Homo sapiens: one gene and its partners. The protein of the gene in region 4 interacts with the protein of the main gene of each other region in a biochemical or structural test. Each region holds a gene or a part of one and is shown on either strand. Other genes may lie near its edges. The genes, in order: CPT1A, UBE2F, TMEM106B and TRIM2.

Region 1 (7,027 bases), on a different chromosome or scaffold from region 4:
GTCCACCCTCACCAACATGAAAAAAAGCCTTTACCAACCCCGTAGGCAAAAATCTAGTCTTGTTTAAGTTGTACTTGTTAGATTCTTGGTAAGATTAAGCTTATTACCTACACTCATTGACCGTATTTTTCCTCTCTTGTGAACCACAGTTTCTGGTCTGACTCCTTATTTCTCTTGGATTATTTTTTTCCAAAGGCAACCACTTAGCCAGATTTCCCAGCTCCATTTACTCACCAGCTCCCCGTCCCCTACTGATGTCAAATGCTCCCTCCATTACACGTTATTTCCCAGGCCTGCTTTTGTACGAGGACTGCAGCATTTTATTTTTATTAAAAACAATTTTTTTAAAGATAGGGTCTCACTGTCATCCAGGCTGTAGTGCAGTGGCACGATCACGGCTCACTGCAGCCTCCACCTCCGGGGCTCAAGTGATCCTCCCACCTTAGCCTCCGGAGTACCTTGGACTACAGGCATGCGCCACCATGCTGGGCTAATTTTTTTTTTTTTTTTTTTGTATTTTTTGTACAGATAGAGTCTCCCCATATTGCCCAGTCTGGTCTCAAACTCCTGGACTCAAGTGATCCACCTGCCTCAGCCACCCAAAGTGCTAGGATTATAGGACTGAGACCACTTTAATCACAACAGTCTTCTAACTCCTACACTTTAAGTTTTAGGATTTGAAAAAGTACATGTCCACCTCCCCGTGTCCTGCCTCCGCCTGATTGCTTTTCTTTTCAAAAATGTTACAGGTGACTCTCAAATGTTAGCCTTTTCAAGCCTCAAGATCAACTGGGCAAGCTCCTCTCCTGAAGCCCCTGCCTGACCTCTCACTGTGTTCATATTAAATGTGTGAACTAAGCCAGGCATGGTGGCTCAGGCTTGTAATCCCAGCACTTTGGGAGGCTGAGGCAGGCGGATCACTTGAGGTCAGGAGCTCGAGACCAGCCTGGCCAACGTGGTGAAACTCCGTCTCTACTAAAGATACAAAAATTAGCCAGGTGTGGTGGCAGGCACCTGTAGTTTCAGCTACTCGAGGGGCTGAGGCAGGAGAATCACTTGAACCTGGGAGCCGAGTGAGCAGCCGAGGCTGCAGTGAGCCGAGATCGTGCCACTGCACTCCAGCCTGGGCAACAGAGTAAGGCTCCGTCTCAAAAAAAAAAAAACAGTGTGAACTGGGAACATCCCTTCCTCTATGGTTCTGAAGTTTTTTTTCATCCAAAATCATGGCTTTTTCTCCCTCTCCCTGGGGAGGAGTTGGGGGGCGAGTGCTCCTCGGCCTTCTTCCCAGAGTCCAGTCTGCTTTATACACGTATGCCTGGAAGGTGGGGCCCCAGATTCTCGTTTCTATTACATTCTCTTATTATATTTCCCACTTGGCCATCATCCTTGTGCAAGAAAGCTGGTGGTCTTTGTGCAACTCTGCGCTGGGCCGGCTCACTGGGTGTGCCTCTTAATCGTCAAAGCCTTTCTGCTGTTCCATCTCCTGAACAGACATAAATGTTCTTCCTGCCCAATTACCCTGTCATCTGCTAGAGGCATCCTCATCTTTCTTGTTTTAAGGGGACTGCCTCCCACACTTTTACTTTGAAGCAGTAGCTAGCTATTAATACACGATGCCACTTATCCTGTTAAGGAAAGAGCCCTATTACTAAGCCCCTTGACCAAGAGCTCTTATCAGGAATGGATGTTAAACGTGAAACGTCTTCTTAGGATCTGTGAAACTCACTATCTAGGCTCTTCTCTGACCCAACAGTATGGTTTAGTGTATGACTGGATTTACTGACACAAAACCAGCCTCTCACCGCTGGTGTACGCCACTGTGGGTGACTATTCTTTTCCTACAGTGCTGGATTCTAGTTGCTAAGATTTTATGGAGGGTCTCTGCACTTCCATTCATGCGGGAAGCTGGTCTGTGCTTCCTTTTTCTGCGTTTAGCTGCAGCACAGTGATGAGAGCCACAGGTTCTCGAACAAGCCTGCCTGCTTCCGATCTCAGTCCTGCTGCGTACGAGCTGGAGCCCTCAGGCAAGATGCTTCACCTCCGAGTGTGGAGGGCAGAGATGAAGAGATGCCTTCCTCGGGGCCGTCCTGAAGTTTCGCTCGCTCCTGCCAAGTACATGGCACAGTGGCTGGTGCCCCTTGCAGCTCATTCCCACACCTGGGCCACGTGGGTTCTGGGGAGCAGATGGGGTGGCTTCCTTTGTGGAGTCTCTGAGCTGCAAGCTCTTTGGAGTCACAAGGGTGGCTCCCTGACAACCTCTCACTTTGGTCCCTGGACCAGAGGCCTTTTCAGGTTTTCTACCTTGAGTCAACGTCACCAATTTGTACTGCTTGCAGAATAGTCATTTCAGCATGTTTCAAAATGTACTAAACTGGAGCGTGGCATTTCCTTACTAAACTCCTAAGTCCTGCGCTTACTTGCAGGGAATTCTTTTAAAAAAGAAAAAAATTTAAAAAGATAAAATAACATCCTTTCTGTAGGTAAGGTATCAACTGCTTGCATGCCCTCATACTGCACGTTTACGGGCAAAATCTGCTCATCAATTCTCAAAATCCAGCTCACTGATTCTGAGATGCGATGCCTCTATTCCATGTCACCTTTTAATCACATGATCTTTAGTCAATGATCTGTCACAGACAGGAGCTTGTCACTGTGCTCCTGGTACTCTGCCCAGCTGCTTCTGGTTTACGCATAGTGAGCATGTTACTTGGGAAAGCAAGGCTTCATAACTGTGACAGTCTTTACAGACTGTATTAGCATGCATTTTAAATACGATTTTGGCCCATTCATTCCAGTTCATCTGATATTAACACTGCCTCTTACTTCTCTGTAACTGTTTTCTTAACTTTAGGTGGAGAGAGCATAGACTCTGGAGCCGCTGGCCCGCTTTATCCCTGCCTAGTGCCACCCTGGCAAGCACCTGGCCTCTCTGCACCTGTTTCCTCACCTGTAAAATGGGAAAACAAGATTTTCTGAGGCATAATGGGGACTTGTAAATTTTTAAAAATGGGATAACAAGAGTGCCTCCCAGGTGCAGAGACAGTGAAGCATGAGGTACATGATGCACCAAGCAAAATTCAACAATGGCACAATCGTTACCAAGGTTGGGGGGGCAGTGCCACACGCTGCATATGTGTACAGCACTCAAGTTTTAATACAAGGCTGGGCACGGTGGCTCACGCCTATAATCCCAGCACTTTGGGAGGCCAAGGCGGGTGGATCACCTGAAGCCAGGAGCTCGAGACCAGCCTGCTCAACATGGTGAAACCCCATCTCTACTAAAAATACAAAAAATTAGCTGGGCATGGGGGCGCACACCTGTAATCCCAGCTACTCGGGAGGCTGAGGCAGGAGAACTGCTTGAACCCGGGAGGTGGAGGTTGCAGTGAGCCGAGATCATGCCATTACACTCCAGCCTGGGTAACAAGAGTGAGATTCTGTCTCAAAAAAAAAGTTGGGAATATCTCAAGCCAATGCCACGATGACTTGTGCTGCCCCCAGAAACCAAGGGCCCCCTGTCTGGGATGGAATGCTCCCTCCAATGGACAAGAAGACCCATTTATGTCCCTGCTAGGGGTGCAGGCTGCTCCTCCAACAGGGGTTGCCAGGTGCAAGCCAAAATATGGCCAGTGCTCAGAAAAGGGAGATGGAAATGCCATGTGTATACAGGGGATCCAGCCCATGGCACCTCCAAGTGGCTGGAGTTTCTCCTTTTATGGAAGGAGATGTCAAAGGCCAGAGACGTTAAGTAATTTGCCCAAAGACATCACTTAATAGCTATATAATATTCCACTGTATGAAAATACCAAAATTTAATTTAGTATGGTGAAAGGAAGATTTACTCTGCCAAAAGGAAAGGATTAAGCTGAAAGCTAAGTCATGCAAGAAGCTTTTTATTTTGTTCCCAAGCAGAGAGCGACAGATGAAACGTGGACCATGTTCACCTGACCTGTGTGAAGTGCAGATTTACCGAGCGCCAGACGAATACGTAACTGACTATTCCCCTACCTGCCCACACTATTTCCACTTTAGCAAATGCTAGGATTCGGGGCTTATTATGGGGCTTAACTCTCCCTCTGTAGAGTGATGAGATCTCACTTTGTCCTCATCCCCCAGACTCTCCCTCTCCCGTGTCAGCTGGGAATCTACGCCTGCTGGAGGGGGATTTGCGAACTTTGCCCGCGTGCGTGGTGAAACACCCAACGCCACCCGGCCCCCGGAGACCGGGGTCGGGGGGAGCTGTGCTTCTCCTATGCCGGGTTTCGGGCCTTCCCTCCCCACTGGGTGAACAGTCTTGGGCAGGTGTAGGAACCCCCAAAGTGCTCACGACAAAACCCTAGGCGGTCAGTTCTTACCTTGTAGTGCGCCAGCTGGAGGGCCAGCTGCACAAAGGCGTCTGGGCTCGTGCGACATTTCTTGATGATTCCTTTACCAAAGGCTACGAATGGGAAGGAATGGAAATCCACGTCGTTTGCCAGAAGATTTGCGGTGTTCAGGGAGGTCTCTATAACCTCTTGACACTTGAGAGAAAGAAGAAAAAGGTTTTACGGAACGAGGGGAGAAAAGTACTGACGCACACCCAGAAGGAAATTGGAGGCTGGTTTTTAGTGCAGCTATAAACTCGGTACTGGGAAGTACACAAACGTTTTCCTGACCCAGAAGCCCTAGTAAGTTAGGGGCATGGCTCCCTGACCCCGGAGGAGCAGCTGCAATGTTATAGCAGGTAGCGGGTCTGACATGAGCAGGCCAGGAGAGGGCTTCCTCCGACACACACTGGGAATATCACGCGACCATCAGTGATGGTCAGGTGGTTGTGAACTGTCTCTCTAAAATAATAATAGGTCACAGCCGGTGCCAGGGAAAGGCAGTCTCTCAGTAGATAGAAATGGAGCTGGTGACCAGCAGCTTCCCGATAAGATCTCAAGCGTTGGGCGAGTGGGCTGAAGCATGCGCACTGAGAGGCAAAATGGCGGCGTCTAACTGGACTATGAGCTTCCTCCAGCAGTGCTAGACAGGCAAGGGCAGAACACCTCAAGTGAGCATGCGCACAACTCCAGTAAACATACTGCGCATGCTCCCTTCCCAAGCGCTGGAGCCACTGTGCATGCGGACAGCCCACAACAAGGGAGGAATTGGGAGAAGTAACACAAGACCCTGGACGCATGCCAATGTATAAAACCTCAAGTCAAGAGGTCAAACCTCGCACTTAATCTCCCAAGTTGGCCGCTTGGCCCTCTTCCAAATGTACTTTCCTTCCTTTCGTTCCTAAAGTTTTTAAAATAAACTTTCCCGCTTTTAAACTTGGTCTCTCCTGCCTTCTGCCCCACAGTCAAATTCGTTCTGAGAAGGCAAGAATTGAGGTTGCTGCAGACCCGTACAGATATGTTCTGACGCTAACAGGAACATGGGTAGGGGACGGGGGCACCCTGGCTTCCAGTGAGACCCCAAAGGGTGTTTCAAATAGTCACACGTCATCTTATGATGACGTCATCACACAGTGGCAATCAAGAAACACATTTTTTTACTTTTTATTATTAATTTTTATTTATTTGAGATAGGGTGTCCCTCTGTTGCCCAGGCTGGAGTGCAGTGGCACCATCGCTGCTCACTGCACCTTCTGCCTCCCTGGTTCAAGCCATTCTCCTGCCTCAGCCTCCGGAGTAGCTGGGACTACAGGCACTTACCACTATGCCCGGCTAATTTTTGTATTTTTAGTAGAGACGGGGTTTCACCATGGTGGCAGGCACCTGTAATCCTAGCTACTTGGGAGGCTGAAGCAGGAGAATCGTTTGAACCTGGGAGGCAGAGGTTGCAGTGAGCTGAGATCGCGCCATTGCACTCCAGCCTGGGTGACAGTGCGAGACTACATCTCAAAAAAAAAAAAAAAAAAGAAAAAGAAAATGGTATCTTGGACTCCAGGGAATTTCTCCTTGGATTAAGTGAACTAGGATTTGGTATTTGCAACCCTAAAATTCCTTCCCAAAAGGGCTCCTGTGAATGGGCTGCCTCTGAGCATGTTTAAGAGGTGCCAAAATGAATTAAACTTTGAGAAGTATAAATGAGCAATTTAGAGGCTTTCAGCTCTAACCTATGTGATTTTGGCTTTTAGTTTTTGATTATGAGCATTCTGTAGATGTCTAGTTAAGTTTAAGCTGGAAATAGCGCTGACAGTCTTAGCCAGGAGCTTCAAACAGAAGAAGAAATATTTACCGAGGCTTCCGAGGCAACAGGAGCTGTGACAGCCCCGCAGACCCACGGAACTCCCTGAGCAAACAACTTTCAGCCTCAGTGGTCTTCAACTGAGCTCATGATAGGGCAGGAACTACGGTTGGAAAATTCATCTGTAAGACTTCAAATGTGTTTCCCATCCCAGGTAAGTAACAATGGTTGGATAATCCGGACTTACTTCCCCCGGGATGTCCCACTGCAGCCTGGTGGGGTACGGAATGTTCGGATTGATGTCGCCTTTGCAGTGCCCATCCTCCGCATAGCCCAGCTGGAGGCTGTCAATGGACATGACGTACTGTCAAAAATAGAACAAAATTATTAAAACTAACAGTGGTACATAAAACACATTAACCTCCAACATGAAGAGAGGGTTGTTCTTTGCAGAGATGTTACAAAGTTTGAATCACAGCTGTTAAGGCTTCCAGTATGCTCAGCACCTAATGAGGTGGATCTGATCTCCATGTCAGATGTGACAGAGAGAGGACAGACGAGGGCTAAGGGCTTGCTCAAGTTTGTGACGCTCTCCTTTCACTGGCAAGTAAACCTAAGCCAATTTATTCAACGGTGTTTATTGGGCACCTACTATGGGTTGGAACCACTGTAGCATCAGCGGCATCCAAGCCCTGGTGACAGCGCAGACAAGAACTGTGTTTTGTGAACAAAACAGACAAGAATTCTTGCCCTTCCTTAAAAAGTGAAATATACCTGTATGACCCAGCAGTTCCACTCCTAGGTACATACTCACTGAAATGAAATGAATAGATGCTCACACAAAAACTTGTACAGAATGTTCAGAGCA
Region 2 (7,027 bases), on a different chromosome or scaffold from region 4:
AACCAACCAATCCACCTACACAACTTTTCCAGCAGCCTTAGGAGGAGAAATCACTGATGCCTGACGTTCTGCCCATGCCAGGGATCAGGGACACAAGTCACAGCAGGCATGAAGCTCCGAGAGGCTGCCTGCCCTAAGTGCCCTGACATCTATCAGGACCATTTTGGTAGAGAGAGGGCAGCTTAAATACAAGTGCCCAAGGTCGTCTCAAGCCTGCCATCTACATTTTTTCTCCTGGGTATCTATCATTAATCATATTTTCTCATCTTAGCTAAAATCAGCCACATGGAGGGAATGTGGTCTCTCATGTAAATAGGAGGGGAACAAGGCAAGGGACTCCAAGGGTCCATCCTGGGCAGGCAAGGAGGCTGCACTAAGAACTTAGTAGGGCTGTGGCCCCCAGAGGGCCAAGAGAAGACACTCGTCTGGAGGCAGAAGGTAGGGTAGGGTTTGGGAGCAGGCAGGCAACCGCAGCTACTTCAGCTGAGTTCAAGCCCTTCCTAATCTTGGCCATGCCTCAAAATCTTTTCAGAGGAGACAACATGTTTAAAAGCCCAACGCTTGCACATGACACTCACGAATGTAGAAGAAAGAAAAGACAATAAACTCACCTCAGACATATTTCCCCTGTCTCTGTGATGTTGGGGTGCCAGATCTTGGTCAGGCATTTCACTTTGGGAGGCTGCAACACAGAGACAATGAGAGAGATCACGCCGACAGTCTCTGCAAATCACATCTCCAGGCCAGAGCCTTACCACATCCCCTATCTAGACGCTTGTTTCATGGCTGACTCAGTGTGCAGTTTGACTCGCTGAACACGTGTTCAACCCTGAATACTGGCTCACCTCACCCATGAGGCATGTGTTGATGCGCTGCATCCACAAGGGCTAGTCTCAGCAGCAAAGTCTACCCGTGGGCTTCTGAGCACCTCTCTACAAGCCCCATGTGTCCTGCCGGCTGACAGTGCTGGTGACTGGACCTCTGTCACCTCCCACACCCCCTGGGTTTGGGACTGCAGAAGGTATCCACAGTGCACTCTAAGGAATAGTTCTACATCCTCTGGGTCCAAATCCAATCAGAAGCCCCAGATTCCTTTGCAATACAAGTTACTATGGCTGAAAGTTACTGCTCCTTGCAAGAACAGCCTGTTCCATTTGCTGGATTTTTCTGAAGATGCTATTGTCACATACGTTTTCCTAGATGAAAGCCCTAGTCCACTTTACATTTAAAGGAGAGAAAGAGAATGAAAATGAATTTGTGGGGATAAAGTATATCAACATCATTTATGACTTGGCATGTTTGGATAAAGTTCTTTTAAGATTTTTCTAGTTTGGGCATGGTGGCTCACTTTGGGAGGCCACCTAAAAGAAGAAAATATAATTAATGATAGATACCCAGGAGAAAAAAATCTCAGCACTTTGGGAGGTCGAGGTGGGAGGATTGCTTGAGGCCAAGGGTTTAAGATTAGCCAGGGCAATATAGTAAGACCCTGTCTCTCCAGGGAAAAAAAAAGAGCTGGGCATGGTAGCTCCTGCTTGTAGTCCCAGCTACTCAGGAGGCTGAGGTGGGAAAATCACTTGAGCTCAGAAGTTGTAGGCTGCAGTGAGCTATGATCGCACCATTGTACTCCAGCCTGGGTGACAGAGCGAGTCCCTGCCTCCAAACCAGAAAACCAAACCAAACCAAACCAAACAGATTTCTCTGTTACAAAGGCAATCCATACTCAGAGAGAAAAGGACAACACAAATGAAAAGAAACATACGTAAATATCTAATAAATTCTGCTGTCTTTCACTTTTGTTTTTTATGTAAGAATATATACACTCCATCAAAATGCTACCCAGAAATTATGTGACACCTGATGTACATGTGTTTATGCCTCTTTTCTAGGCCACACACATAGTGTGCATGCAGCATACTCATTTTTCTTTATAGAAGAAAGCTGTGCTACATATGTTTTAGTTATTTCTGCCATCGTTTCAGATGGCATCCTGCATTCCATGGTACACCTGCCCGAGTTTAATAGGCACTTCCCTACCTCTGGGCCCTCAGGTTGCTTCCTCTTCTCCCAACCCTGCTCTATCAATGCAGGGTTCATCCTGGGTGAAATGTTTCCTCAGGATGAAGCCCAGGAAGAGGATCTGCTGGTCATAAACCCTAGCTTCTGATACACTGCTCATGTCCTTCAGAAGATGTGACACCCCGCCCGCCAACCCCACCACAACCTGCAGTAAGGGAGAGGGCCTCTTCTCCAGGACCTCCCACAGAAAGGTCCCCTTGGTTAATATGCAGAAGTGTCAAATCACAGGATCTCATCAGAAAGGTCATCTCAAAAAGGAATCAAACCTTTGTGAAATGGGTAACATTTTCCCTGTGTATCATCTGCTATTAACTTTTATTTATGATGCTTTCTGAGGAGTTTATTTTTGTAATCAAATTTTTATCTTTGATGCCATACTTAGAAAATACTTCACCATCCAAATATCCTCTTTAACTTTCTAGTAAACTTTTATAGTTTCATCTTTTTATTTATTTGTATAAAGCAAAAATACTTTTTCGACACTATAATGAGCATTCTTCCTAATTTCAAAATACCACAAAATCAGTAGATTCCAAAAAACTGATTAAACTGACTGTGCAAATCCATGTGTCTGAGGACAAAGAATTTAGGTTCAGAATGAGTTTAAATAAATTTCACATTGTGCTTTTCTACAAATAAATGGGAATGTATTTAATAGAAAGGAGGAACTGCATCTTTCCCTTCTACTGAGGCATTTGGGCTGCAGAGGGAAGGTCAGACTGCCATGAGGGGCAGGGCTCTGTGCCCCCTTCTGGGTCACTGGATGGTGGCAGGCTAGTGCTAGGCCAAGTCACCAACTCTCAGTTTTTGTAGGAACCTAGAAAATTGGCAAACTCACTCTCCCTCCCAAGCAGGTACCCCTTCTGCGGAGGCCCTCACACATGACCATGCAGCCTGGTGCTACCACATCTCCCAAAGGCTTGCGGGTATTCGCCCTTCCTCCTGTCCCCTTCACACCTTCCATAATTTGATGTTAACACAGATACCTCCTTTTGTCAACGGTCCTCTTAACTGTGGTTCCAGAACAGAGGGCAAAACTCTGCACCTGGCTTCTGACATACATACTTTCCAAACTGAATTAGGCCTGTAGCCCCTTCCCCCCAACCCCAGTGGCCCACAGCTAGACCAACAAGCAATGCCCAGCCCTCCCACATTCCCCCTCAGTGCTTGGCACGGCCACCATCACTCACCCTGCCAGAAGCCTAATGTATGACAAATCTGGCCTCTCAAACCAACAGAGAACTGGGTTATTTGGTGGGTCACTGGCTACCCATTTGGAAAAACACAGTGTTCCAAATGCATTAAAATTAAACATAAAAGAGAATTATAGGACTAGAAGAAAATGTAGATGACCATCTTGGGGTCTGAAGGCTGCTTTAAGCATATCATAACATACAAAACTCAAGCAGTGAAACAAAAAAACCAAACTTGTATAGAACAACGACTAAAGACGGCAAATGCAAAACAAAGAAAGTATTTACAGCATAGCTAAAAAACTGAAGAAAAAAGTTTCACATACTTTGCTTGTAAGGACTCTAGTAAATCTAGAAGAAAAACAAATATCCCCAATGGAAACATGGGCAAAGGACATAATAGCAGCTCATAAAAAATATAAACAGCTTATTAGTGGGAAATACTATTCAGCATCCGACTTAAGAAATGAAAATATAATGCTTGAATCCAGGAGGTGGAGGTTACAGTGAGCTGAGACTGTGCCACCGGACTCCAGCCTGGGGGACAGAGCAAGACTCTGTCTCCAAAAAAAAAAAGAAAAGAAAAGAAAAGAAAAAGAAATGACAATCGGATATTAAACGAGATACCATTTCCTCCCAAAATGGCAACAACAACAACAAAAAGGCAAATATTCTACCTTGGTAATTGCTTAGGGAAACGGAATTTTCAAACATGGATGGTGAGGATGCCAACTGGCATTCCTCTCTGCAAGGTAATTTAATAGGATTTATCCAGAACCTTAAAATGGAGCATCAATTACTCAATACCCATAATGCCATGTCTAGGAACTGATCCAGAGGAAAGAGGCAGACAGACATAAGATGCATGCCCCAGACTTACCTCACAGCCCTATTTATTCTGGGGCAGCAGACCACAGCCTACAGACCAAATCGAGGCTGGGACTGTTTTCACATGGTCAAAGACTGGTTTTTACATTTCTAAAAGGTTATTGAAAAAACAAAAAAGAATATGGGACAGAGACTATGTGGTCCACAGAGCCTAAAATATTTATTGCTTAGCCCTTTACAGAAAGTCTGCTTTATACTGCAAAAGGTTGGTCAACCAGTGACCAATGATAAAGGACTGGTTTAAATGATACATCATACAAGGAAGTGCTCTTATTAATAATGATGCAATTGTGCATTGACTGACATGAATGTGTACGTCCATCATATTATGACGGGAAAGCCCCAAGTTACCAGACTATGTGTAGCATCGCCCCATTGGTATGTGGAATTTATACTGTCTGCAACAGACATTAGAGAGTCAGGGTGATCATCTCTGGATGGAGAGATTACAGGTTATTATTATTCTATTTTTGCATGGCCGTGTTGTCTCAATTCCCTACAAAGTCTGATAATTTCATATGAAGAAGAAGGGAGAGTGGGAGTTCAGGTGTCACTTGTGGTCGTCATCACTGCTGTTCAACAAGTGTCTCTGGCTCTCCTCCTCCAGGGCCCATGGCAGGACTGGCCTTCCTTAGTCCCTCCGGGCTGGCCATGGTCATGTTATCTGATTTGGCCAACAACATGTGAGGAGACGTGGTGTCTTCACTTCCAGGAGGAAACCAGAGCCAAGAACAAAGAGCTGTAATCCTTTCTCCTGCTACAGCACACAGCTTCCTCCAACCAGTCCTGACCGACGCACCTGAGGGCTGTGTGACACCACAGGCCAGCTAGGGTCTGGGCTAAGGCTCTCTCCTCCTCCAAGGCATCCCCAGGCCATGTCACGTGCTCCTCCTCTGGGCGTCCCCACCAGCCTGAGGAATAGCCGTCACCCACATCACCACCCGGGCTCCTCATTGTCATGTCAGCGTCTGTCTCCCCAGAGACTGAAATTCTTAAAAGGCCACCAAGTTCCCATCCTTGGCCCTCCAGTGTCTGACACGGAGCCTGGCACAATGTAGGAGCCCACTAAATGTCACTACATCCGTTTGGACAGTTTCTAAACTGACAAATTACAAGGCAGGCTTTAGGCTGGGAGTTAAACTGCAGAGGCAAAGGAACAAAAACACAAAGAAAATTTGAATTTTGGCTGCTGGGATATTGGGTGGGGTGGGGGATTCCAAATGGACATTTTTCTTTTAAAAGTTTATTCTAAAATAACGATCGACTTTATTAAAGGTTTTCCACATTCACAGTCTTAATAACAGACCTTCACTGCAGGAACTGTAACTCTTAGGAGACAAGTCCTTATGAAGTACAGAAATTGTGTCAAGTCAGTCATGGCAGTGAAGCAGATGCACCCTGAGAAGCCCCAGCCCATCCCTAGGCTCCGCACTGGCTGCTGTATCCGTTCTCACTGACCCACCTGGTGCCCTCAGAGTGTGCCCTCACACTCTATCCTGAATGCCTGTGCCTATGTGATTTTCCTATGCTGACTGAATTATTTCATCTCTTTTCTACACTAAGTTTGTAGGGGGCAGAGAGAGGGGCAACCACTGAACAATTTGTGTTTTTGCCTAGCATGGCAGGCACAAGCTACACACCGGAAATAGTGTGGGCAAGACAGCTGGCACTCCCTCAGGGCTCACAGCCCAGTGGGAAAGAGATGCTCAGGAGAGTCTGTAAGCAATGATTCATTATAAATATGGCAAATGCAACTACTTTTGTGTTCAGCCAAGTACTACACCCTAATGATCCCCTGGAGACGCCCTGCTGGGGACACCAGTGACATATGCTGGCCCCTAGAAGTTGCCCCACACTTGCCTGAATGAGAGGCAGACAGGAAGAAAACAAGAGAAGGGAACAGGAGGCTGGGTTCAGTGGCTCATGGCTGGAATCCCAGTACTATGGGAGGCCAAGGCAGCGGATCACCTGAGGTCAGGAGTTCGAGACCAACCCGGCCAACATGGTGAAACCCCGTCTCTACTAAAACTACAAAAATTAGCCGGGTGTGGTGGCAGGCACCTGTAATCCCAGCTACTCCGGAGGCTGAGGCAGGAGAATTACTTGAATCCAGGTGGCAGAGGTTGCGGTGAGCTGAGATCATGCCATTGCACTCCAGCCTGGGTGACAAGAGTGAAACTCCATCTCATTAAAAAAAAAAAAAAAAAAAGGCTGAGCACAGTGGCTCCCCAGCACTTTGGGAGGCCGTGGCGGGCAGATCACCTGAGGTCGAGAGTTTGAGACCAGCCTGACCAACATGGAGAAACTCCGTCTCTACTAAAAATACAAAATTAGCTGGGCGTGGTGGTACATGCGTGTAATCCCAGCTCCTCAGGAGGTTGAGGCAGGACAATCACTTGAACCCGCAGGCAGAGGTTGTGGTGAGCTGAAATCGTGCTAGCCTGGGCAACAGAGTGAGACTCTGTATCAAAAAAAAGGCAGGGGGGACAGGAAGGAAACGCTGGGGAAAGGAGAGGAAAGGACCCTACAGAAGCAGGGTAGGAACATGGTTCATGCAGAGCCACCAGCTGCTCTCAGTACTTCTGGGTTTGAGAACATGGGGTTTTATTCCTGATGAAATCTGACCAGCCCATCATTTATGAAACTTCCAAAAGAGACAGCAGTGGAAATAGAAAAATGTAAGATCATCGTTACAGAGCTAAAGGTCAAACACAGCACACAGAACTTCAGAAAGGCTGCATGGGAATGATGTTTCCCCACAGGGACTAGTAGTGGGGAGGGGAGAGGGGGGCTGGGGAATAGCAGGTCTGAGACAAGGACAGGAAAATTTAAGCCTTACCCCTCCACCTCAACCTCTGTGCCAGTCT
Region 3 (7,062 bases), on a different chromosome or scaffold from region 4:
TGCCGGTCATTTCTGTGCCTCAGGAGAATCCTGGGCAGCCTGCCACCCTGCCTCCAGCCTTCACAGAGCTGCTGCAGTACACTGGTTAAAGGCCTAGAATCTGCAAAGAAATTTCTTCAGCATTCATGCCCTACCCCATGCCTTTAACATATGACATTTGAGCACTTAATGAAGACCTTTAGGAGAGAATTGGAGAGTGAGTGCACACTCGTTCTATCACTGGAACGACATGAGATTGTAATCTATCATCCTGGTCCACACACAGGGGTGTCATTCGGCAGGTCTCCCTTCGGCCCTGTTTATGGTGCATTCCTCCTTCTCCCACTGTTTTGTAGGTGATTAAAGCAACTCTAATTCTATTCTCTCTTAGGAAGCTCTCCTTATCTTTTGGATTTAAGTGTACTTAAATTTGCGTCCTCATTTCTTTGATAAGTTTTTTAAAAATGTTTAAAAAAAAAAAAACCTTCTCTAGCTTGTGTTTGTTGTGAAGAAACAGTCTTTTATAACATAAATCCTAATTGGACTCTGTGTTTTCCTTATTTTATATTCGGAACACCTCCTCAAGGATTTCTGGACCCAATTCTCCTCTTTTCAGCAGCAGTGATGATCACTTAGCAAAAGAGTGAAAATACCCTCTTTTCCCCCCCTAACCAGTTAACTTTACTCACCGTCATCACTTATCTTTGTGTAGTAAAAGTTGAGGACAGAATTCACTCTTCCAAATTTAATACAGATATTCATGCCACAGTGGTTAATAGCTGTAGCTTTGCAGTCAAAATATCCGAGTTCTAGTTGCTAGCTGTGTGGTCATGTGCAAGTCATAATACCTAGGATCCTCTATTTCCACTGTTTGAAATAAGATATGGGATAATAACAGAACCTAATCCATAGCATTTCTATAAAAATTAGATGATATAAACTACTTTACACAATGCCTGGCACAACAAATTCATTCATTGGCCAAGTGTTATTGAACTCCTAAAATTATTCTTACTAGAAATTATGATTATGACAAAAACCCTACAAAAGATGACTTGAATATTTGGGAAAGAAAGTTTTAACACATGGGAAAGATTAGCTCCATGCAGGTGTGAAGCAAGATGAATGAGACAGAGGAAATATAGAAGATCCTGCCTAAGAAGGAGTACAGAGACATAACCAAGAGTTTCAGATAGGTAAGTTATTTGCAGAAATTAATAAAGACCTCTGCTTTTAAAATAATTGGAATGACAAAGATGTGTCAATAGAGTCAGGAGTTTACTGCCTGTGAATGTAAGTCAGGTGGCACAGCGGGAAATGGTAGTTTTGCTAATGGTAGTTTTGCTATGTATCTGGGGCACTATCTCTGAAAATCAGCCAGACAAACTTCAATCTTTTCAATCCCTGGTTTCCAATGTAACCTATCCAGGTTTCTAACATAATCTGACCAGCATATCAGTGGAAGGGGGTGAGCTGAGAGAGACTTATATATTAACATTTGACAAATTATATGTTTCAAAATAATTATGTTCCTTTTCTGCTTATAATTTTTAACAGCTAATTTCTAGAAAAGTAATTTTTGCAAAATTTTTAGTTATGGCTGACTGCTATTAGGATTTGGGTGATTTACCATTAAAAGAGATAAAAGAGAATTGAAATGAGAGATAAGGCTGTTTTCAAGATTTAGTACAACCTAGAGAAATCCCTTAGCTTCAGCATCATACTAAATATAACCAGAAATCATTAAGAAAGAATGTTCTTCTATTCAAACTTATCCCAGACTGTTAAAATTACTGGCCTTTATATCTGATAGCACCTAGACCACTACTGAACTCGGAACTCAAGAAATCACTGTTAATCAAATAATTGGAAGCTTTTCAGAAAATTTTCCTTTCAAAATGTGCTTCAATGAAAAATAAGGCATAGGAACAAATGTACCAAACATTCAATATCTGTCTTTAAAGTACTTCCTTGTTATATGGATGATAAATTTGTAATCATAATATCTAATATTTACTGATTGCTCTGCAGGTATCAGCTCCCATCCATAACCCTTTGAGACAGACATTATTACTATCTTCATTTTGCAGATAATAAAAATTAGGTATAAAGAAGGCTAAGTATTTTGCCCACTCTTACAGAGATTTTGTATATCTCTGTCAGGCTGGGCTCATTTTCAGGCCATATGGCTCCCAAGGCTGTGTTCCCAACCCTGCTACTGAACTGCTTCTTACAGCAACATTCTCCCAGGAAGACTTATTCCTATGTGAATTCCAGGAATTTGGATAAGGAACTGTGCTATATGGCCAGCACGTTTTAAGTTAAATGATGAGGTTGAGAAAATACTAAATACTCCCTTAAGAATTAAAGAAAAAAGTAACTTTTTCACTTAAGAATAATATATATTACATTATAGAACCATTTGCCTATTTAACAATAATAAAGAAAAAACATCCATGCTCTCAAACTACAGGCAACTGTTTATATTTTGTATATTTCTTTCCATTTCAAGGCAGATATGTAATATATTTATATCTATATGTTATCTATATGTGAATATAGTTTACATCCTATTACAATACCTCATATCCTATACTTTGCATCCTGATTTTAATTTTATATCACTCCGCGTATAACAGCCTTATAAGATGGTTTTTACTGGCTTTATAAAAACTCAATAGATGGCTATTCCATAATTTTAAAAACTCAGTAATTCCAAGGGGAACATCATATCTCCACAGGTGGACTGTCAATAATTTTGAGAAAAATTTTCCCCCATGATTCTGATTTGTTTTAACCAACCTATTAATTTTGAAATTTCAAACAGTGTTAATGGAAGACACCCTGACCCTTCCCTTTGGAAAATATGGGCTAAATAAAAGCGGTTGAAAAATAATGATTTTATCAATGTCCCTTGTTGGACATTCAGTTTATTTAAATGGATACACCTCATACCCAAATCTTTTTAGAGTTCTCATTAGGTTTAGGATACTTCTGAAAGGGTGGAATTGCTGGACCAAACGATGTGAACATTTTAATAGTCTTGATACATACTGACTGTCTGCCAGAAAACTTAGGAGTTTTAAATCTCCGACAACATTGTATGAGAAAGCTCATTATCTCACATATGGATCTACAGTAATCCTCTTAAATTGTATATCGTTCTGACTTGTATTTCCTACTTTTACATAGCTTCATTTCCCAATTCCTGTTAGAATTCCCTGATTCTAACAGGATCACACTGATCCTGTTAGAAGAGAGAAATATATGACTCTCACTTCCTTGCTCCTGTGACTGTAAGAATGCCTACCATTCATTAAACGTTAAACTCTCCGCAGGAATGAGACTAGAGTGCCCTTAATATTATTACCGGCATCTCATTGATCCCTCAAAACGACTCCTTGTCGTTGTTCTTATCTTCTAAGTGAAATGACCTAGACGTTGGGGGAGGGCAGCCCCAACCCACAGCGAAGAGCTTAAGTACTGGGATCCGAGACGGGATTTCACACACCTGTAACTAGCACCAGAGTTAAGGGGTGGGGAGGGGCAGCGTGGGCAAAGCGAAACGAAACCGAGCAAAAACAAAAACTACGGCCTTGCCGCTTGCTGTCTCCTTCTAGTTGGCCAGTTTCTAAATTAAAATAGAGGTAGCTTTGCTGCTGTCAGCGGCGTGTGTACGGACCAGTTTATTCCATTCCTAAGGACCAGACTGTCAGCGACAACTCGCATTGCGTGAGCGAGGAGGCTGCTCAGCTGAAAGCTGAGGCAGATGGTGCACATTTATACCCTTTGCAAAAGGAAATGGTCTGATATGGGAAATAGGAGGAGCGACTGTTCCTAGGTAATTCGTGGCTACAGTGGACACTTTGAAGTCTGGGGGACGCGAAGGTAATGAAACCTGAAGAGCGCACAATCTCACACGATCGACGCCTCTGGGCTCAAACAGGAGGAAGAAGGACGCATGCGTCACGCGCACGCCAGGGGTGTCCCTCCGGGAGCGCTCTGCGCAGGCGCGGACGCAGGTTACAGCAGCGCTTGGCCTCTGCTGATGCCGTCGTTATCCTACCCCTCCCCCGTCCCAGCTCTACGGCGGCCGCGCGCTCCAGGCCGGTCGCTCCACCCCCCGGCTCCCGGGACTGTGGACTCCACGACCCTGTCCTCGGCCCTGTCCGCGCCGAAGCAGCCCGGGACTGCGCAGCGCCCCGCGTGCCGGTGAGCGACCCCGGACGTGCAGTCCCCAGGTCCCCTTCCGGAGCGAGGCTGAGCGGCTGCGCCGCGGCTTGAGCCGGGCCTGACAAGGAGGGGAGGCCGCTGGGGTGCTGGGCCAGCCGCAGGTACGGCGGCGGTCAGGGCTGGTGATCGAGTTGCTGTGTCGCCTCTAATGAGGCCCAGCCAGGGAACACTCGGCTTCGGCCCAAGCCCTACCTCTGGGTTGCCTCTAGGCCCTCACACCTTGAGCGCCAGGTGGCCCTCTTCCTTTTGCTGTTGATGAATGTTCTTGCCGTGGTGCCGGGATCTTATTTTGCAGCTTTACAGAGTAGGCTTTGTGCTAGGTGTTGTTTATGGAGCTTTTCAAAGGCGCTTGTTTCCTTAGTTCTCAAGCCCTTTTAGAACTAAAACCAGTGTCTACACAGAAGATCAGGAGCCATTTAAATTGGAGTGCTGTGATATATTTTTTCTCTCCAAACTGAGTCTGATATCCATGTTGACTTTCAGTAAACTAAGGAACCGCTATAATAAATAACACTGAGCCCACAGAGGTTGCAGAAGAGGGTCTAGCACCCCTTTTTTAAACCATTGAGTCTCCCAAGAATAAAAGTGGTTACACTTGTCAGTTCTCTAAGGAAAATCTAGTAGAGAAGGCAAGGGATTCCCAGTTTCTCACAGAGTCTGGCACTTGTCCAAACACCTACCCTAAAGCAGAATCGATCATGGCAGCTATTAGATTAGGACAGAAAACAGGCTCAAACGGAGAGCCACTTGAGTCTGCCTTTCTGTGTCTTTTTTCTCAACGCGCTCCAGTTAAGATGCAGCTTACAGCCTGGCTGTGTTGACTGAGATCCCAGAAAGAGTGCCCTTAAGGCCTTGCTGATAAGGCCCAATGATCCCAATTCATCTAGTGTTCCGCATAGACCCCAAGGTTACAGTGTGTGGGGACAGTGATGTTAAGTCTTCCCTATCCTACCTGTGGCTGACAGGTGTTGATTAAGACAATGATTTTTTAGAAGTCATAAATCATTTGTATTTTTGATGTGGGCAGTGATTTTTATAAATACATAGTTTTTTTTTTTTGAAAGAGTGAAAATCTCATTTTACATTTGTTTGCATACCATTTGTATAGTTTTTTAAATTCTGTTTATTTGAGTGACAGCAACAAGTGGATGGCATGCGAATTTTATTTATTTTTTTATCTTTGTATTTATTTTGTGTATATTCATGGAGTACAAGTGCCATTTGCTACATTGATACACAACATCCTGGTGAAGTCAGAGCCCTTAGTGCATCCAGCACTGGAGCAACACACATTGTACCCACCAAGCAGGCTCCTATCAGGCATGCCAGTTCTAGAAAGTAAAATTTTCTTCATACTCTAGGATGAACTGACTTACTTGGAATGTCTGTTTTGTTTAATCAAATAAGTGAGAATTTTTGAAAGAAATACTATCTGTCTGAATGTATGTAATCTATTTTTAGGAACCGCTAAAAGACATATCAAATTTAGAAGGAGTATAATTATGTTATTTTTCAGTTTTACTTTTTCACTTTATTTTTTCTCAGGATATAAGCAGGAAAATACCAGCAGGGTGTATTATATGACTGTTAAGTTCTTTTCAGCTTTAAAAGGGTATGACCTTAAGTATAAAGTTACTTCATTATCTACCTGCAGAAGTTATTTTTGTGTAGGCACTAGTACTAATTATTTATTTCTACTTAGATTTTTACATTTGTATTGTTATTTTGATACTCTTATCCTAAAATTTTTGAAGTTAGTGTTCTAAATTTTGCTGCTTTGTATTGGTAACTTATATTTAATATTTTGGAACATTGGCTTCATAATTTTAACTGTCAACTGTTGAATGAAAAAAAAACTGTGATTTTGGAATTTTGGGGCTTTTTATTGTTGTTGCGAGTGTTTAAATGTTTAAAGCAAGAAATTTAAGGATGGAAAAGAGTGGTGATTGTATTTATCACAAAGGTGCGTGAATTTTCAGAGGCTGAAACGTACTACTTTGAAGTTACTTGGTGATATACATCAAATACCTAGTTATCGTCTACCCAAAGCAATTTTTGCCTTTAGTGCTAACTAGTTAAAAGGTAGAATGTATTTTTATTTTATTTTAAGAAAAATGAAACCTGCATGTTTCTTTTCAGAGAACCTGCAGGTGTAGACTTTTGTCAAATGTTAATGTTTGAAAGCCCATTCTCATCATAAGCATGATAGGACATCATTTCACATTATTTGTTTAAAAAAACACTTCTGGACTCTAGTAAATGGCTCCTTTGTTTCAGACATTATTTTGATTGGATATAATCCTAATCCAAAAGGTATAATCCAAAAGGTAGTTTGAACATTCTCTTAATGTTTGTTCTGTAAACCAAAAATAAAATTCTGAGCCCCCCAACTAAGTGGAACCCGCTTCTCTGTCAAGGGCATTCCAAAGTAAACCTAAAAAGGTAGTTCAGGCCATGATGAAAAGGTGGGTGGAGGGGATTGAACATGCCCCGTTGTACCTTCCTCTCTTTGGAATTCAGGCACAACTGACCAGCATCAATTAAAACAGAGATTTGAAGACTAACAAGAGTCTCTTTGTAGCAATAAGATATCAAATCCCAACCTGACTCTAATATAGAATCACTCGACAGATAGCAGGCCCTGAGAGAAATTGAAATATCTTACCCCAAAATATATTTCTTTGAAATGGCCTTGCAAAGCTGTCTCTCGTGGGGAAGATCCACATTCTGTACAGAATCCCCTTTCCTTTCCAGATCTTTTCCTAATTCAGCAGCGATTTAACCAAGAGCCTGGAATATTTTAAGGAGTAATAAGAGACATTTACAAACTATTCTCTCTGAAGCCTGCTA
Region 4 (7,027 bases):
GCGCCAGATTGACAAGCAGTTTCTGATTTGCAGTATATGCCTGGAACGGTACAAGAATCCCAAGGTTCTCCCCTGTCTGCACACTTTCTGCGAGAGGTAAGCCTCCTTTGTGCTTGGAGAAGGGAGTTTCGCAGGCTGACCTCCTACAACCTACTGCAGGATTCTTTCCCAGAATTCTACAGTTACCTTTGAGAGAAAACTAATCTCTTGTGCTTCTGCCAGACATTGAAAAACAGAATCATGAGTTGCAAATAATTTACTTTATTTCAAACCATTATAAGCAAGAGAAAGCAATCCAGTAACTACTGATTCGTTTACACAAGAGATGGAGCATTAAATAAGAATGTTAAGTTGAAAAATCTTTTAAAACTTCCCTTTGTTCTTTGTGAAACAATTTTTGTCCACAGCAGATCCCTACAGAGGGTCTTTCAGAGTCAATTAAAAAAATCTATCATTTCCTCCCATATAACAAATCAGGTAAAACATCTGCATACATGAGTTGTTACTTCAAAAGGTATAGCTTCTTTTTCAAAGATTCTTCAGACACATACTAATGTCACATTTGAATGCTATGATGTTTTAGATAAAGAAAAAATATATATTAAATAAATTACCTGACTATGTAATTTGCTGTATGTGAAAACAGACTTCCTTATTTATCTTCTTCATAGAGTATTTGTTTTTGGAGAGGGGCGTTAATCAGTTATCAAAATATACTTTTACCCCATTGTTTAACTTACCATGTAAGCAATTAAGCATAAGTTTGTTAGTAATTAGTTTATCTTACTTATAAATATTTCCCTAGTAAAGTTATGTATCTTTCTTAAAAATAAATATGGTAATTGTGTTTTATAGCATTTTGTTAAGTACATTTTTATCATTATTTAATATACATACTTAAAATGCTTTACTTCCTGTGATAGAACTGGAAATCAGTATTTCAAATGGCTTCAAATCTATGCTGATTACACAAATATCTGATTTAACATGTCTTTATTATCTGATTGACCATTTTTTGAGTTGATTTACTTTGCAAGGTTCAATTGCAAAAGAATAACCATATCCTTCATGGTGGTGATGGATAGAAGGAGAAGGTAGATTTGTTACTAGTAGTTGTGGCTTTTTTGTTTGTTTTGGGTTGTTGTGGGGTTTTGTGTGTGTGCGTGTGCTTGTGTATATGGGTTTTGGTTTGTTTTAGTGGTGGTATATAGGGCACTTTTTATTTTATTCATTTTATACTTTGGCTTAAGTGCTTGGTAATTCATATTACAAAATAATTAGAGTGTGATTCCTCCATCCCCTTAATGGGTGCACCTAAAACATGAATACCAGCTAATAGTCCATGTGTCCCTGGGCACACATGGGAAGATCGTTACCTGATGTGCAGCAGTCGGCATAGCTTGGCTGATACTCTCTATAGAAGTGCATTCAGAGCCACTCAGTCTGAACTTGGCAGAATTGCCCCATATCCCAGTATTCAGTGTCCAGCCTATCTATTGTTTGGGTCCTACTTCCTCACTCTGACAGGTGAGAAGCAACACTCTGGCTGCCCTAGGTCTGCCCCTGCTATCTTCTTTGGGGATCTAGCCCAACCCACTTCCACTCCCCACCCAATAGCTGGTGGTAGAGATTTGTGAGATTCTGCTACAGCAAGTCCTTACACAATGCTCTGTGTTAAAATTGTTCCAGCCTCATGCATGTTGAGATGATTTCCTCTTCTTTTTTTATTTTATTTTTAATTTTGAGATGGAGTCGCACTCTGTTGCCCAGGCTGGAGTGCAGTGGCGCAAACTCAGCTCACTGCAAGCTCTGCCTCCCGGATTCACGCCATTCTCCTGCCTCAGCCTCCTGAGTAGCTAGGACTACAGGTGCCTGCCACCACGCCCAGCTAATTTTTTGTATTTTTAGTAGAGACGAGGTTTCACTGTGTTAGCCAGAATGGTCTTGATCTCCTGACCTCATGATCTGCCCAGCTCGGCCTCCCAAAGTGCTGGGATTACAGGCGTGAGCCACTGCGCCTGGCCAGATTTCCTCTTCTTTTATTTTTTATTTTATTAATTATTTATTAATTTATTTATTTTGAGACAGGATCTCACTCTGTCACCCAGTCTAGAGTGCAGTGGCACAATCACAGTTCACTGCAGCCTCAATTTCCCAGGCTCCAGAGATCTTCCCACCTCAACTTCTTGAGTAGTTGGGACCACAGGTGCACACCACCATGCCTGACTATAGAGACAGGGTTTCTCCATGTTGCCCAGGCTGGTCTCAAACTCCTGAGCGCAAGCAATCCAACTACCTTGGCCTCCCAAAGTGTTGGGCTTACAGGCGTGAGCCACTGCGTCCAGCCGAGAAGATTTCTGTTTGAAGGTGTTGAAGGTGCTGGCAACTTTCCTTAAAATGGGGTTTTTTGTTTGTTTGTTTGTTTGTTTGTTTTTGAGACGGAGTCTTGCTCTGTCACCAGGCTGGAGTGCAGTGGCGCTATCTCGGCTCACCGCAACTTCCGCCTCCTGGGTTAAGTGATTCTCCTGCCTCAGCCTCCCGAGTAGCTGGGACTACAGGCATGCGCCACTATGCCCAGCTAATTTTTGTATTTTTAGTAGAGACGGGGTTTCGCCATGTTGGCCAGGATGGTCTCGATCTCTTGACCTCGTGATCTGCCCATGTCGGCCTCCCAAAGAGCAGGGATTACAGGCATGAGTCACTGCGCCCGGTGGGGAAATTTTTGTTTATGCAGAGACAAAACTTTACAGCTTGTCTCACTGTCAGGAGAGTGAGCTCTAGGACCCCCATGTTCAGCCTCTGCTGGACATTCATACTGGCTACTCAGTGAGCACCTTACAGTCACTCTTTTTTTTTTTTTTTTTTTTTTTGAGACAGAGTCTCGCTCTGCCGCCCGGGCTGGAGTGCCGTGGCGCGATCTCGGCTCACTGCAAGCTCCACCTCCCGGGTTCACGCCATTCTCCTGCCTCAGCCTCCCGAGTAGCTGGGACTACAGGCGCCCGCCACCACGCCCGGCTAATTTTTTTTTTTTTTTTTTTTTTTTGTATTTTTAGTAGAAACGGGGTTTCACCGTGTTAGCCAGGATGGTCTCGATCTCCTGCCCTCGTGATCCACCCGCCTTGGCCTCCCAGAGTGCTGGCATTACAGGCGTGAGCCACCACGCCCAGCCCTTACAGTCACTCTTATCCCACATCTTCCAAAACAGCATCAAAAGGCTTGAAGGAGAGCAAAGCCAGACATAGCTGCTGGCCCCTTGGAACTCACAGCCTAGTGGAGGAGCCAGTCACTAACCCCCTAATTGCTCAGACTAATGTGAAATTAAACCAGTGACAAGTGCTGTACACCAGAAGTATACAGGAAACAATATAATAGAGGAATTTGCCCTAATCTGGGAAGGCTTCCTTGCAGAAGTGATGATTACGCAGAAACCCCAATGATGAGTAAAAATTAACTAAACAAAGGGGAGTGAATAGAATTTCAGGTATGTGCAAAGGTGCTATAGTGGGAGGTTGCTATAGTGAGTGAGAGGTGCTACAGTGAGAGGGTTATTCAACACTGAGGAAGAACTTAAATAAGTCCACTGTGGCTGGTATGCAGCAAATGAGGGGAAGAGACAGAAAGTATGTAGGTGCTAGGCCATATGAGATGTGTAATCCATGTTGCCATATATGGATTTTTGTCTTTGTTGTAAGAGCAGTGGAAGTGGAAACCATGGCATGGCTTTCATCTCAGATGGTGTGGGAGGGAGATTTAAATGGCTCTCTTTGAGTTTTGAGAAGGTCACTCTGGTTGCAATGTGGATAATTGTTAGAGGGTACAAGGATGGTTATATAGCAGGGCATGAAGAGAACTGGAGAGGTTAGAAAGATATGTAGGCATTTGGACATGCTTTGGTGATGGGTTGGATATGGAAAATGAAGGACAGTAAGGGAGTTACTGTTTTAAGAATGACTCCTAGTTTCTGGTTTGTTTAAATAAATGGATGGAGGTGCTATTCATCAGGAATGGGAGAGGATACAGTCTGGGGTTCAGATAATGGGTTTGGTTTTGTTCATGTTGAGTTTTAGGACCTGCAAGACATCTAAGAAAAGATGTCAACAGGTCAGTTAATGAGGCTCAAAGGAGATGTCTGTGGGAAGAAATATAATTTTGGGAGCCTGATGCTTGTAGCCACACCTGTGATATGAATATAATATTCCAGAAAGAGAAGAGGTCTCATGATGAATGGAACCTTGATTAACTCAAAACTGTATTGACTCAGAAAAGACAGAGCAGACAGGAGAACCATGTGAGTGTGGTGTCATAAAGTCAAGGGAAGAGAAATTTTTCAATAAAAAGGAAGGTGAGCAGAGCAATAATCAAGCTTAATGATACTTCCCAGAAGTCTAGTAAGATAAAATTGAAAAACATCTGCTGGATTCAGACGTCGTTAATGACCTTAGCAAAAGCTGTTTCATGTCTGGTATTGGTTCAGGGCTAGCTACCTCTGTGACATAGACAAGATCAGTGAATGTCTCTGATGTCAGGTCTATTCATCTGCAAAATAAGGGGAATGGGGCTAGGTTGGTGTGTTTTGAATTGTTTGGCTAGGTACTGGAAAAAATTGTATAGTCTAATTATTGAGAGCTTAGATTATGGTGCCAAACTGCCTGTGTTTGAATTTGTACTTTGTACTCTGCTCCTGACCAGCTAAGTATCTTGGACAAGTACGCTGGCCTGTCTCTGTCTGTTGCATCACGTGTCTCAAGGAATCATAACAGTACCTATCTCATAGGCTCATTGGAAGTACTTTGAATTCAATGAGCAGCATATGTGTGAGTCATTATTAGTGACACACTTCTTTAACTAAATGAGTTAAGTTGATACCTGTTGAGTAGAGACAAGGAGAAGAGATGGTGTGGCTCTGACTCTGGGTGTCCCATTCTTGCTTCAAGCAAATATTTCCACTTTGATGTGTTTTTTATATCTCATTATGATTTTGTACGTAAGAAGAATTTTATTGCTAACAAAAATATTTGATGTGTTTCTTTCAATTTCAAAGTCCACACATTTATGAGCCCACTGCTAGATATTGTGGGCCAGTGCTTCTCAAACTTTAACATGTATGCAAATCACATGGGGAGCTGACTCAGCAGGTGTTCGATAGGGTCTAAGATTCTGCATTTCTACCAAATGCACCCCCCAGGGAGGCTGACGCTGCTCATCCATGGACCACACTTTGTGTGCCAAGGCACTAGAAAACACTACAAAAGTCAATGACATTTTTTATTTCCTTGAGCATAATCATTTGCCTCATTAGTGTGAGTACAGCTTACCTGTTGGTTTCTGAAATATTATTTTCCTAGTAAAGGAGACTGGGATGGGAGTTTCTGCCAAATACCTTGTGTAGTCACTGAGAACATGTATGGTACCTGTGAGAAGTGGAGGTTCTGCACTGTGCTAAGCTCTCCACCTCTGCTTCTGCAACAGGTGCCTGCAGAACTACATTCCTGCCCACAGTTTAACCCTCTCCTGCCCAGTGTGCCGCCAGACCTCCATCCTGCCCGAGAAAGGGGTGGCCGCGCTCCAGAACAATTTCTTCATCACAAACCTGATGGACGTGCTGCAGCGAACTCCAGGCAGCAACGCTGAGGAGTCTTCCATCCTGGAGACAGTCACTGCTGTGGCTGCGGGAAAGCCTCTCTCTTGCCCAAACCACGATGGGAATGTAAGTGGCTGGGATGGCAGATACTGCCCGGGAGCATGACTACTGTGGCCTTGGGGAGGCTTTGGGTACATCAGAGATTACAGATTGAAACAGAACTCCATGTGGAAAAATCAGTAATTAAAAAAGATTTTTACCAGCCCTCAGACTACCTGCTCACTTTCTTTGACCAGAACTATTTAAATAACGAAATCAATCTCCACTGTGTCTCCTTCACACATATTGTTGGTATCCCCAGGACAGCAAACCAGTAGCTATTTGCAAGCTGACCTACATAAACATCTGTGTAATAAATTTATGGATACGGATTTAACAATGGATAAGTTCTGTAAGTTGAGAATGATTATTAAAATGTTAATTAGAGTTCTTTATTTTTCTTGGGAGGGAAATTTTCTCATGCTACATTAGACCTTATTCCTTATTAATAGATAGAATTTGAAGCTATGTGAATCCCTGATAGTAGATTATAGATTATGAATTCCAAACATATTTCTTGCTACTAGTGAGTACAATAACTGTTAGAAGCTCAGGAGGACCTGTGGGTACCATCAAGTAACTGATTCACAATAGCTATGTAACCTGAAGAGGCAGCATTGTGTAGCGTCTAAGGACATTGGCTTTGGAGTCAGGCTGCCTGATTCAAATCCTGCTCTTAAACTTATTCCCTGTGCCAGCTTTGGTAAGTTTATTAAACTCTCTGCGTCTCATTTCTTTATCAGTTAAAAAAAAGTAATAATAGTATTTACCATATAGAATATTGGAAGAATTAAATGTTCAAGTCATGTAAATCATATAGTAGGATCTTGATAAATGTCAGCTTTAACATTTTTTCATTAATTACTTTATATTCATCTCATTTGTATATTGGTCACTTCAAAAGTATTTGAAACTGCTTAAAACAAAAGGCCCAGGTATAACAAAACCACTAAGACAAGCAAGCAATCATTAGAGCAAAGCAATTCTTATTAGCCACACTACTGTTTGTTTACCTCATCTCCCAGCATTCTCTCTGCACACTGTGCTGGAGCCTCACCAGCCTCCTAGAACCTGCCAAATGGTTTCCCTCCTCGGGGCCTGGCTGTTCTGTTCCTTCTGCCTGGGTTGCTCTTTGTTTCCTCTTTATGTGGCGAGCTTATTCTCTTCCTTGAAGTCTCACTGCAAATTTCTCCTGCACACAGCAGTCTTCTCCACCTGTACCGTCTAACACAGGTTGCCTCTTACAGCTGGTTACCCTCCATCATGTCCCTGCTTTCTTTCCTCCCTGGTGCTCACTGTGGTCTGCTTGCCATCAGCTGTGTATTTGTGTACTTATTAGTCCTGGCT

Evidence for each region.
Region 1: the proteins of TRIM2 (region 4) and CPT1A form a complex in vitro, tested with the Homo sapiens proteins (one study listed by BioGRID).
Region 2: the proteins of TRIM2 (region 4) and UBE2F form a complex in vitro, tested with the Homo sapiens proteins (one study listed by BioGRID).
Region 3: the proteins of TRIM2 (region 4) and TMEM106B form a complex in vitro, tested with the Homo sapiens proteins (one study listed by BioGRID).

The regions. Positions count from the first base shown.
Region 1 is NC_000011.10:68,768,910-68,775,936, forward strand, and holds part of CPT1A (carnitine O-palmitoyltransferase 1, liver isoform), read right to left. Parts: intron 6,524-7,027; coding exon 6,407-6,523; intron 4,521-6,406; coding exon 4,356-4,520; intron 1-4,355. UniProt on the Homo sapiens protein: Catalyzes the transfer of the acyl group of long-chain fatty acid-CoA conjugates onto carnitine, an essential step for the mitochondrial uptake of long-chain fatty acids and their subsequent beta-oxidation in the mitochondrion.
Region 2 is NC_000002.12:238,018,997-238,026,023, reverse strand, and holds part of UBE2F (NEDD8-conjugating enzyme UBE2F), read right to left. Parts: intron 683-7,027; coding exon 612-682; intron 1-611. UniProt on the Homo sapiens protein: Accepts the ubiquitin-like protein NEDD8 from the UBA3-NAE1 E1 complex and catalyzes its covalent attachment to other proteins. Together with the E3 ubiquitin ligase RNF7/RBX2, specifically neddylates cullin-5 (CUL5).
Region 3 is NC_000007.14:12,207,235-12,214,296, forward strand, and holds the start of TMEM106B (transmembrane protein 106B), read left to right. Parts: upstream 1-4,059; 5' UTR 4,060-4,191; intron 4,192-6,966; exon of another isoform or gene 6,967-7,062. UniProt on the Homo sapiens protein: In neurons, involved in the transport of late endosomes/lysosomes. May be involved in dendrite morphogenesis and maintenance by regulating lysosomal trafficking.
Region 4 is NC_000004.12:153,270,424-153,277,450, forward strand, and holds part of TRIM2 (tripartite motif-containing protein 2), read left to right. Parts: coding exon 1-96; intron 97-5,469; coding exon 5,470-5,707; coding exon of another isoform or gene 5,708-5,746; exon of another isoform or gene 5,747-5,845; intron 5,846-7,027. UniProt on the Homo sapiens protein: UBE2D1-dependent E3 ubiquitin-protein ligase that mediates the ubiquitination of NEFL and of phosphorylated BCL2L11. Plays a neuroprotective function. May play a role in neuronal rapid ischemic tolerance.